Homo sapiens: one gene and its partners. The protein of the gene in region 1 purifies or fractionates together with the protein of each later gene. This does not show direct contact. Each region holds a gene or a part of one and is shown on either strand. Other genes may lie near its edges.

Region 1 (3,651 bases):
GGATTCTTGTGCCTCAGCCTCCTGAGTAGCTGGGATTACAGTCATAAGCCACCATGCCTGGCTAATTTTTGTATTTTTAGTACAGACGGGGTTTTGCCATATTGGCCAGACTGGTCTCAAACTCCTGTCCTCAAGTGATCTGCCCGCCTTGACCTCCCAAATTGCTAGAATTACAGGCGTGAACCACTGCACCTGGCCTTAAGACCAGGGCTTCTTGATAGTTCCTTGTATATTTGTGCAGCATTCTAGAGATTGGAAAACACTTCCTCTTGTATTATCTGATTTTAAAGGGCTGAGTAGTTAAATATCTAACAGGAGAGCGCTTGCTAAATCAATTATGTTCATCTGTGCAGAGGACTCTTTGCAGCCATGGAAACCAGCATGATCAAACCAGAAATGGATTTCTAGCTTATAACTAAATGCAGGGAGAACAGCGTATGTATCAGTGTGTCTGGTACAGTCCCATTCCTATCAATAATTATATGGAAATAAAAAATAATTGAGTATATATGAGTATATATACCATGCTTTAACAGTGGTTATCTCTGTGTGGGAATATGGGCATTTAAAACATCTAAACACCTGTTTTGTTTTGTTTTTGAGACAGAGTCTCGCTCTGTCGCCCAGGCTGGAGTGCAGTGGTGCAATCTCGGCTCACCACAAGCTCCGCCTCCCGGGTTCACGCCATTCTCCTGCCTCAGCCTCCCGAGTAGCTGGGACTATAGGCGCCCACCACCTCTGCTGGCTAATTTTTTGTATTTTTTAGTAGAGATGGGGTTTCACTGCGTTAGCCAGGATGGTCTCGATCTCCTGACCTCGTGATCCACCCGCCTTGGCCTCCCAAAGTGCTGGGATTACAGGCGTGAACCACCGCGCCCAGCCTAAAACATCTAAACATCTTTTGATTGCATTTTCTGACTTCTTGGAAATGGGCATACATTATTTGGGGTAGGTTGAAAAATAATGAAAAATGGAGTCACCTTTTAAACAAAATAAAAGTGAAGAGATTGAGGCATAGTGCTGTGCGGTGGGTGTTAGTCATTTTAATGTGATGCTACCTACTGTCAGTTGAGCCTCACAGTAGTCTTGGGGAAAACTCATCATTATTGCCATGTGAAGGTGTGGAAACTGAGGCTCAGGCCTTTCAGGCAGCCCAGGGCCCTTGGGTCATGAGAGACAGGGCAGGTAGGTATTTGAGCAGGTGTGTGTGACCCCAGTGACCTGTATACCCCAGGACAGTGTCCTTTCCATGCCCATTTGCCCTACGCCACCCCTTCTCTCACCCCTGCAGGTTGCAAAAGTGTCCACTACGATCTGGTCTTCCTCCTGGACACCTCCTCCAGCGTGGGCAAGGAGGACTTTGAGAAGGTCCGGCAGTGGGTGGCCAACCTGGTGGACACCTTCGAGGTGGGCCCCGACCGCACCCGTGTGGGGGTCGTGCGCTACAGCGACCGGCCCACCACGGCCTTCGAGTTGGGACTCTTTGGCTCGCAGGAGGAGGTCAAGGCGGCTGCCCGGCGTCTCGCCTACCACGGGGGCAACACCAACACGGGAGACGCGCTCCGCTACATCACGGCCCGCAGCTTCTCCCCACACGCCGGCGGCCGCCCCAGGGACCGCGCCTACAAGCAGGTGGCCATCCTGCTCACCGACGGCCGCAGCCAGGACCTGGTGCTGGACGCCGCGGCGGCAGCCCACCGCGCTGGCATCCGCATCTTTGCCGTGGGCGTGGGCGAGGCACTCAAGGAGGAGCTGGAGGAGATCGCCTCAGAGCCCAAGTCCGCCCACGTCTTCCACGTGTCCGACTTCAATGCCATCGACAAGATCCGGGGCAAGCTGCGGCGCCGTCTTTGTGAAAGTGAGTGCGCCCGGGCCCCATGCGGCCCCTCCCAAGAGTGACGCCCCCTGCTGAGCCCACGGGAGGGGTCCTCGGGCAGATAGGGATCCTACGGCCGGCTCCAGGAAGGCGGGGGAAGTAGCAGGTGCAGAGGCTGAGGGGACCCACATTCTTGGGTTTGGCCACACAGGGAACCTAGTAGCATGGGCACCCCCTGGACATTCCTGTTGTCAGAAGGATATCTTCTCCCATCCAGAGGCAGAGGTCGCGGGCAGAGGCAAGAAGGGGTTTGGGATGAAAGAGGGATGGGTTCTAACCACCCTGCCACCTGGGAGATACTTGGTGTCTCATCTTTACCTCTGATGTGGGAACATCCTCTACTTACTGCCCAGAGCTGTGAAAGCTAGAAACTGTGCATGCAAAGTCTGGCCTGAAGCATTGGGTATAGCAGGGTCTCCGAAGGGGCAGTGATGAGGGATCACGCAAGAAGCATTCAGGCTCCCTCGGCTCTTCCCAGCAGCCCAGAGTCAGTCATTTAGACACAGTCAGGAGGTGCTTATCCCAGAGGCCAAGTGCTGTTGACCTGGTGCCCTCTGAGATAACCCAAGGCCTCTAGCTTATTTGTCTGGAATCTGTTGATTGTGGCTGGGGGTGGGGGAGGGGAGGCAGAGGGCTGATGGCCCCCAGGGCTCTGACCTGGAAGCCTGACCTCCAGGATTTAGTGGGGGTCATTCTGAGGACAGCGCCCTCCCCAGGACAGGAAGGATGAAGTGGGTTTCTCATGTTCCAGACTGTCTCCAGCTTCTGCCTCTGCCTATTGCATTGGGGTGACATTTGTCCTTCTCCAGTCACAGTGGGTGCTGAGTAATCTTCTCCTCCAGGCCCGGGAGGGGTTGGGCTTTGAAGCCGGTCAGGCTGAGTGTGGAGCCTCAGCCTCTGTCTTGCTGATTACTGCAGGGGGCTGAACAACCCCTGGCTGGGAAGCCATAGGTTACACCTTGGCCAGGGGCAGGGAAAGCTTTGGGGGCTGGGGCAGCATGGAAGGTGCTCGTGATGAGAGCAGCTGGGTGTGAGTCAGAAGGGGAGGCAGGGGCCTGATCCTGGGGATGTGCCTGGCTTGCAGCCCAGTGAGAAAACAGCTAAACCATTTCTGAAACTGGGGTGGCTCTAGGCTGCTTTACCACAGTATGACCCTTTTCTCTGTGTTGGCTCTTTTAATCTCCACTTATTTATTCAACAGATACTTATCAGGGCTCTACTTTTTTGTATGGCCTTGTGCTGATTTCTGGGGCTACAGAAAAAGACAAGACACAGCAACCATTCTCAGGGTGCTCATAGTCTAGAAGGCAGGAAAGCCACATAAAAGGGAATGTGATACCGGGCAGGTAAACTTTAGCAGCGTCTCATGTGCCAGGTCCATGTGTGGTCGTGGTATGTGTGGGGATACTGAGAATGATGGAGGGCTCCCTGGAGGAGGTGGTGCTTAGGTTGTTTAGAGGATGGGCATGAACTGCATGGGATTGAGAAGGATGCGATGGAGTGGGATTAAAGGATGCCATGACATGGTCAATGAACCATGATGGGCCCGTGCAGCTGGGGAAAGGGAGGAGGTTAGGGCTGCTGGGCATTGCCAGATTGTCAGGGTCCCCATAAAGGGGGGCCTTGTGTGCTAAGGTGAGGACATGCTGGAGGGTTTATGCGGGGGTATGACATGGTCAGATCTCTGTGGGGAATGGAATGCCGCTGAACAGCAGGACAAAGGGAGGTCCTTCACAAGACTGCTGGAGAAATTCAGATAATTGTGAGAGATCCAG
Region 2 (4,260 bases), on another chromosome or scaffold:
GAGCCAAGATTGCACCACTGCACTCCAGCCTGGGCAACAGAGTACGACTCCATCTCCACACACACATACACACACACACACACACACACAAATTGTTAATTGTATATGTATAATTATAATAGTTTATATATATTAACAATTATATATAAACTTGCATATATATAGTATTTGCTGTATTATTATATATAAACAATTATATATGTAATGACTGTATAAAATAGATAAACAATTTTAACTAATAATATTATATTAATTATATTATTATTAGATGTAATAATTATAATTATTTATATATAATATTTATTATTATGTATCATTGTTAGAACACTTAACATGAGCTCTGTCCTCTTAACAAATTTCAAGTGAACAAGACGTTATTGCTGACGATGGGTCGTATGTGGTGCAGCAGATCTCTAGGCCTGTTTGTTAATAACTCCCCATTTCCCCCTCCTCCCAGCCCCCGTAACCACCATTCCCTGCTGTGATGTTGTGACTCTGGTGACTTTGCAGATCTCCTGTAAGTGACATCATGCAGTACTTGGTCTCTGCATCTGCGTCGCTTGGCGTGATGTCCTCAGGTTTCGTCTGTGTTGTCGCCCATGGCAGAATTTTCTTCCTTGTTTAAGGCTGAATAGTATTCCCCTGTGTGTGCACCACATTTTCTATATCAATTCTTCTATCAATGGACATTTAGATGATTTTCACGTCTTAGCTATTGCGAATAGTGCTGCAGTGATCAGGGGAGTTCAGACGGCTCTTTGCATACTGAATTTGTTTCTTTTAAATATAGACCCAGAAGTGGCATTGTTGGACCATACGGTAGCTCTATGTTTAGTTTTTTGAGGAACCTCCCCACTGTTCTCTATAGTGAGTGCACAATTTTTCAGCCTCCCAAAGTGCTGGGATCACAGGCGTGAGCCACCGCGCCCGGCGCACTGTAGGATCTTTTTTAATGCATTATATACCTTGCTGAGATTTTAGCAGAGATCACAATATTAAAAACTTGGGGAAGGATTTCTATGACTCTTATTTTAAATACGAGGACATGTCGACTTCTAGTTTTGTAACATCTTGCCCAAGAGCGGTGGTCGTTAACGTGTGGAGTTGGGATGACATCCAAGTCAGTTGGTTGCACGACCTTTATTCTGTCTTGTCCCATAGATTTAGAAAGAGGCTGACACATCGGGTAACTAGTTTAAGGTCATCTGATCATGCGGGTAAGCGACATTTTTCAGAAACCAAGGCCCTCCCTCTCATCTCACTAGTGGGAAGGGTGGAAAGAACAGAACAGAAAGCTCTCCCTCTTGTGTGAGGCAGTTGCTGTGGAAGCCCCACGGGCAGGAGGCCCCCGGCCAGCACATCCTGTCTGCTTGTGTCTGCTGCAGAGTTCTGGGACCGGGGCCATGTCTCCACACCTCACTGCTCTCCTGGGCCTAGGTGAGTCCTGGAGGGAGCGGGAAGGACTGGAAAGGGGGTCGGGAGGTCTGGAAAGTTCCCTGCTCAAGCCTGACTCTAGTCCAGAAGATTCTGGGGAGGAAAGTGTCCTCCTCCCCCCAAGACTGCCCTACTGCTCTCCCTGGGGCCTAAGTCTGATCAGAGACAACCTTGTCCTAAAAACAGGGGCCCGGGTGTGGGGATGAGGTCAGCTTTAAGAAGGGCTGGGGGGCCAGGCGCGGTGCTCACACCTGTAATCCTAGCACTTTGGGAGGCTGAGGCAGGTGGATCACCTGAGGTCAGGAGTTTGAGACCAGCCTGGCCAACGTGGTGAAACTCCATCTCTACTAATACAAAAATTAGCCGGGCATGGTGGCGGGCACCTGTAATCCCAGCTACTCGGGAGGCTGAGGCAGGAGAATTGCTTGAACCCGGGAGGTGGAGGTTGCAGTGAGCTAAGATCGCGCCACTGCACTCTAGCGTGGGCGACAAGAACAAAACTCCGTCTCCAACAACACCAAAAAGAAGGGCTGGGGGAGCAGGAGCCTTTTTGGAAGAGGAGACTTTGGGATTTATCTTGAAACCATTTTGCAGCAAGAAGGATTACATGGAGACAGTGATGTCGAGGAGGGTTGGCTTGGTCGTTATGAAATGCTGAATGCCCCCCAGCTCCGTCAAGCCCCCTTTTGACAGCAGCCCTGTAAGGAGACTGGGCAGTGGGCATTTTTCTCACTGGGGCTTCTCTTCCAGTGCTCTGCCTGGCCCAGACCATCCACACGCAGGAGGGTAAGTCATGCCTTCGTCCCGTCTTCCCAGTCCCCTCTGTCACCCCAAAGGCAGTGCTGGGTGGGAGTGATGTTGATTCTTAGAGGGCCTGGAGAGATCCCTTTAAATATACCCTAGATTGCAAACTATTCCAAATGTAAAATGCATAACCCTCACCCCTTTCTCTCCTTCATTCTCCACCTGTCATGTTTTGCTTTTCTTATTTTCAAAAATCCTATATTTTATTTTATTTTTATTTTTGAGATGGAGTCTCACTCCATCACCCAGGCTAGAATGCAGTGGCATAATCTCGGCTCACTGCAACCTCTGCTCCCAGTTTCAAGCGATTCTCCTGCCTCGGCCTCCTGAGTAGCTGGGATTACAGGCACCCACCACCACCCCTGGCTAATTTTTTTTTTTTTTGTATTTTTAGAAGAGATGGGGTTTCACCATATTGGCCAGGCTGGTCTCGAACTCCTTACCTTATGATCCGCCCGCCTCAGCCTCCCACAGTGCTGGGATTACAGGCATGAGCCACTGTGCCCAGCCAAAAATCTTATTTTTAATCGACAAATAATTGTATATGTTTGTGGGGCACGATGTGATGTTACAACGTATGTAAACATTGTGGAAAGATTAAATAAGGCTAAATAACATATCAATCACATCACATACTTATTGTGATGAGAACATTTAAAACCTACTTTTAGCAATTTTGAAATATATAATAAGTTATTATTAACTATAGTCAGCCTGCTATGCAATAGATCTCAAAAACTTACTCCTCCTGTTTAACCGAAACTTTGTACCATTTGATCAGTGTCTCTCCCAAGCCCCCCATTTCCCGACTTTAATAGCATCATTCTAATCTCTAACTCTGTGAGATGACCTTTTTTGTTTGTTTGTTTGTTTTGGGATGGAGTCTCACTCTGTCACCCAGGCTGGAGTGCAATGGCACAATCTCGGTTCACCGCAAACTCAACTTCTCAAGTTCAAGCGATTCTCCTGCCTCAGCCTCTCGAGTAGCTGGGATTACAGGTGCATGCCACCACGCCCAGCTAATTTTTGTGTTTTTAGTAGAGATGGGGTTTCACCATGTTGGCCAGGCTGGTCTTGAACTCCTGACCTCAGGTGATCCACCCACCTCGGCCACACAAAGTGCTGGGATTACAGGTATGAGCCACTGCACCCGGCCGAGATGAACTTTTTTAGATTCCACATGCGGTATTTGTCTTTCTGTACCCAGCTTATTTCACTTAGCATAATGTCCTCTGGTTCATCCATGCTGTTGTGAATGACAGAATGTCCTTCCTTTTTTAGGGCTGAATAATATTCCATTGCATATATACACCACATTCTCCTCATCCATTCATTTGGTGGTGGTTATATAACTCAGGTTATTTCCAGGTCTTGGCAGCTGTGAGTAGCGCTGCGGTCACCCTGGGAGTGCAGGCATCACCTCCACACACCGATTTCCACAATGAGAATTCAAACCCAACACAACCAAGGCTGAACCCGGCACTTTTCCCCAGACGAGCCCACACTTCACTCGGCAGCTTCTTGGCGGGGAACGTGACAGTCACAAAGGGCAGACTCTGAACACTCATCCTCTTCTCCATCCTCCTGGATGCACCATGTCACCCAGTCCTGGTGATTTCACTCTAAATTTTTCTCATCTTTCCCTCTCTCTTCATCGACTTTTCCTGCATCACCCCCAGGTGACAGCCCTTCTCCCCTCCGTGGCTCCCCGAGGCCGGCCTCAGCCTGTCCATGCCACTGCTGCCTGCTCCCTTCCTGACCCCAGGGACTGGCGATTTGCAAAAGCACAACCATGACCATTGTACTTTCCACAGTTTTTAAATTGCATTCAAAAATTTTCATTTAATATCTCATCGTAAGATGAAGTTTTTTTCTTAGAGCCCTTCCCCTGTTTATCTTCAGATAGAATCAACCCAGGCACCTCTCTTTGTTCTGGACATGCCCATTTTCCCAGCCACATCCTGTCCCTGTGACCTGGGGCTCACTCATCTCTACATTCCTCCAGGTTCTTTCGCTTTCTCA
Region 3 (3,651 bases), on another chromosome or scaffold:
TCCTCTTCCCTCTAAGAGCAAGAAACATGTGTGCAGGTTGCCATGGGAATAGAGCCAAAGGGCATCAAAGGTCATGGGCATGAAAGGGCATGATTAGATGCCCTTGGGTGCTATTCCCATGGCAACCTGCACACATGTATCTTGTCCCACTGGCAGAATTTCATACAATTATCTGTTTACATGTGTCTTCCTTACCAATTCTTCAGCAAATTGAGGCCTGAGATCATGTCTTGTCTTATTTGTGTCTGATTCCAGGGCACAGTGCAGGGGGTCATCATGAAGGAGTCATTCATTCAGGCTACTAAACTGACCAATAGGATTGTAACATGCTTGCTTTCTTTTCACAGTCTCCAATAAGTGGTTCCATGAACGAGGACAGGAGTTCTTGAGACCTTGTGGATCAACAGAAGTTGACTGACATCCTTTTCTGTCCTTCCCCTTCCTGGTCCTTCAGCCCATGTCAACGTGACAGACACCTTTGTATGTTCCTTTGTATGTTCCTATCAGGCTGATTTTTGGAGAAATGAATGTTTGTCTGGAGCAGAGGGAGACCATACTAGGGCGACTCCTGTGTGACTGAAGTCCCAGCCCTTCCATTCAGCCTGTGCCATCCCTGGCCCCAAGGCTAGGATCAAAGTGGCTGCAGCAGAGTTAGCTGTCTAGCGCCTAGCAAGGTGCCTTTGTACCTCAGGTGTTTTAGGTGTGAGATGTTTCAGTGAACCAAAGTTCTGATACCTTGTTTACATGTTTGTTTTTATGGCATTTCTATCTATTGTGGCTTTACCAAAAAATAAAATGTCCCTACCAGAAGCCTTAAAGAGCCTTACTTGGAGTATTTTTAAGACTGGAAGCTTTTACCAGGTTCATCATTTCCTATGCATCACCTTCATGCAGGCAGAGTCTGGATAATGAATGCTTTAGCAGCAAAAAAGCATCTTGGGTCTTGGATTTCAGACCTGGTTTCAACACTTGTGTTCCCTCTAAGTGTCAGTGTCCTTTTCTGGAAAGTAGGGTAAATAGTTTCTCTTTGTCTCCCAGAGAACATAGCACATGTGTTCATGATTGTAATGCTGTTATAATGTGTACTTCATTTTTAAATTTTGAGATAAGAATTGTTCATGATACACAGATGTATACTTAAAAAAATATGAAGGTGAGCAGGAGCACCTGTGTCAACACCAAGTTAGAAAAGAGAACGTTTTCAAGTCAGTACCTCAGGAGCCCCTTGGGAACCCCTCCTAGATCACATCTCCTTCACTGCCCCCAGCACTTTGGAGATAAATCATTGTCTCATGATGTGTGGTACTCATTCCTTTGCTTGTCTTTATAGTTTTACCATCTATGATTAGATCCCTAAATAAGTAGTTATTCTGTTTTCCCTGATTTTGAACTTTTACTAATAGAATGAGAGTAAATATTTTTGGGTATGTGGCTTCTTTTGTTCAACATTGTTTTAAGATTCATCCGTGTTGCTTGTGTAGCTGTAATTTGTTTTAATCTTTATAGTACATTCAGTTTTGTTAATGCTTATTGTAGGACTGTACCATAATACAGGCAGCATGCTGCTGATAAACACTGGAATTGATTTCAGTCTTTGTATATTGTGAATAATGCTGTGATAAACATTTTTATACATGATTCCTGGTGCACATATAAACACATATTTCTGTAGGATATATATCTAGGAGTGGAAATGTGGAGTCTTAATGGTGTTCCAACTTTACTAAATAATGTATTCCAAGGTGGTTATACACATTCTCACCAGGAGTAAATGAGAGTTATTACCCCAATCTTTTCCAGTATTTAGTATTTTCATACTTTTGAATTTTAGCTAGCTTGGTACATGTTACGGACTAAATGTTTGTGTCCCCCCACCAGATTCATATGTTGAAATCTTTTTTTTTTTTTTTTTTTTTGAGACGGAGTCTCGCTCTGTCGCCCAGGCTGGAGTGCAGTGGCGGGATCTCGGCTCACTGCAAGCTCCGCCTCCCGGGTTCACGCCATTCTCCTGCCTCAGCCTCCCAAGTAGCTGGGACTACAGGCGCCCGCCACTACGCCCGGCTAATTTTTTGTATTTTTAGTAGAGACGGGGTTTCACCGTTTTAGCCGGGATGGTCTCGATCTCCTGACCTCGTGATCCGCCCGCCTCGGCCTCCCAAAGTGCTGGGATTACAGGCGTGAGCCACCGCGCCCGGCCCATATGTTGAAATCTTAACCCCCAATGTGATGATATTAGGATGCGGAGCCCTTGGGAGGTCGTAAGCATGGAGCCCACGTGAGTGGGATTAGTGCCCTTATGAAGAGATCCCAGCCCTCTTTCTGCCATGCGAACACACAGCAAGAAGATGCCTGTCTATGAACCAGGGGGCCCTTACCAGAAACAAACCTACTAGCATCTTGATCTCGGACTTTCCAGTTCCCATAACCATGAGAAATAAATGTTTTTAATTCAATGTATGGTATTTTATTATAGCAGCTCTACCTAAGACAGTACATGTATAGTGTCTATTTGAACATTACTGATAATGTTGAACAACTTTTCATGTTTATTAGTTATTAGGTTTCTTCAAGTGTTCTTATTCATACAAATTTTAAAATATGTACACAAGTTCTTTGTTATATATTTTGCAAATATCTTCTGTGGCTTGTCTTTTCACTATTTTAGTTCTGTCTTTTGATAAACAGGAGCTTTTAATTTTTATGTCAAATCTATCAAGCTTTTTCTTTTTGATTTATGTTTTTTATGTCTTATTTGAGAAATCCTTCTATACCCCAAGATCATGAGGATGTTTCCTGTGTTCTCTTCTGAAAGCTATATAGTCTTTGTCATTTAGGTTTATCTTTATACGTGGTATGAAGTGTAAAGTTCTACTTTTAATTTTTTGCATATTTTATTAGGATAGGATGGGCTTTTTCTGTAGTAATAATCCTTAAATCTCAGGGGCTTAATATATAAAATTGTCTCATGCAAAAAACCACTGGGTCTAGGGCAATTGCTATCTACTGCCGTCTAATCTCCCTCTAGTGGCTTCCATTGGTAGACCCTAACAGGAAGCCAGCTGATAAGGGAATCTGGGAAATGTAGTTTACAGAGTGGCAGCTACAGTAGAACAGTAGAGACTACAAGGATGAGCTTGCAGCTGAGAATAGAAACGTGACTGGCACACTAGGTGGTTTGTTTGTAGGTTTTTTCTTTTCCTGTTTGAGACTTTTTTGGATTCTTGAATTTGTACAATGGTATCCTTAATCAATTGTGGAAAATTAAATGATTTTTTCTTTCAGCATTGTCTGTTTCTTCTGTAACTGATTAAATGTAAGTTGGATCATATCATGATATTATCTCTTAATCTGTCTTTCATATTTTTATATATATGCTATATTTGGGGAGAACTTTATAGCTGTTTTGTACAAAGTTCACTAATTCTGTCTTCTATCAAGTGCATACAGGAGTCTGTTTAAGGACTTTAAAGATGTAATTCTTTGTTTTCTGGCTTATACCATTTCTGTTGAAAAGTCGCTATCTGGTCCTTTGTTGTTCCTTTGAAGGTGATTTTGCCTTCACCTGGCTGCTTTAAAGATTTTTTTCTTTTTGGTTTTCAGTAGTTTTACTATGGTGTACTTAGTATGGGTTTCTTTTTCTTTTCTTGCTTG

What was found.
Region 2: the proteins of COL22A1 (region 1) and LAIR2 purify together in Homo sapiens (co-immunoprecipitation; one large-scale study listed by IntAct). This does not show direct contact.
Region 3: the proteins of COL22A1 (region 1) and P4HA2 purify together in Homo sapiens (co-immunoprecipitation; one large-scale study listed by IntAct). This does not show direct contact.

The regions. Positions count from the first base shown.
Region 1 is NC_000008.11:138,875,957-138,879,607, reverse strand, and holds part of COL22A1 (collagen alpha-1(XXII) chain precursor), read left to right. Parts: intron 1-1,291; coding exon 1,292-1,858; intron 1,859-3,651. UniProt on the Homo sapiens protein: Acts as a cell adhesion ligand for skin epithelial cells and fibroblasts.
Region 2 is NC_000019.10:54,501,516-54,505,775, forward strand, and holds the start of LAIR2 (leukocyte-associated immunoglobulin-like receptor 2 isoform a precursor), read left to right. Parts: upstream 1-1,315; 5' UTR 1,316-1,403; coding exon 1,404-1,437; intron 1,438-2,184; coding exon 2,185-2,220; intron 2,221-4,260.
Region 3 is NC_000005.10:132,189,777-132,193,427, reverse strand, and holds the end of P4HA2 (prolyl 4-hydroxylase subunit alpha-2 isoform 2 precursor), read left to right. Parts: intron 1-347; coding exon 348-418; 3' UTR 419-3,281; downstream 3,282-3,651. UniProt on the Homo sapiens protein: Catalyzes the post-translational formation of 4-hydroxyproline in -Xaa-Pro-Gly- sequences in collagens and other proteins.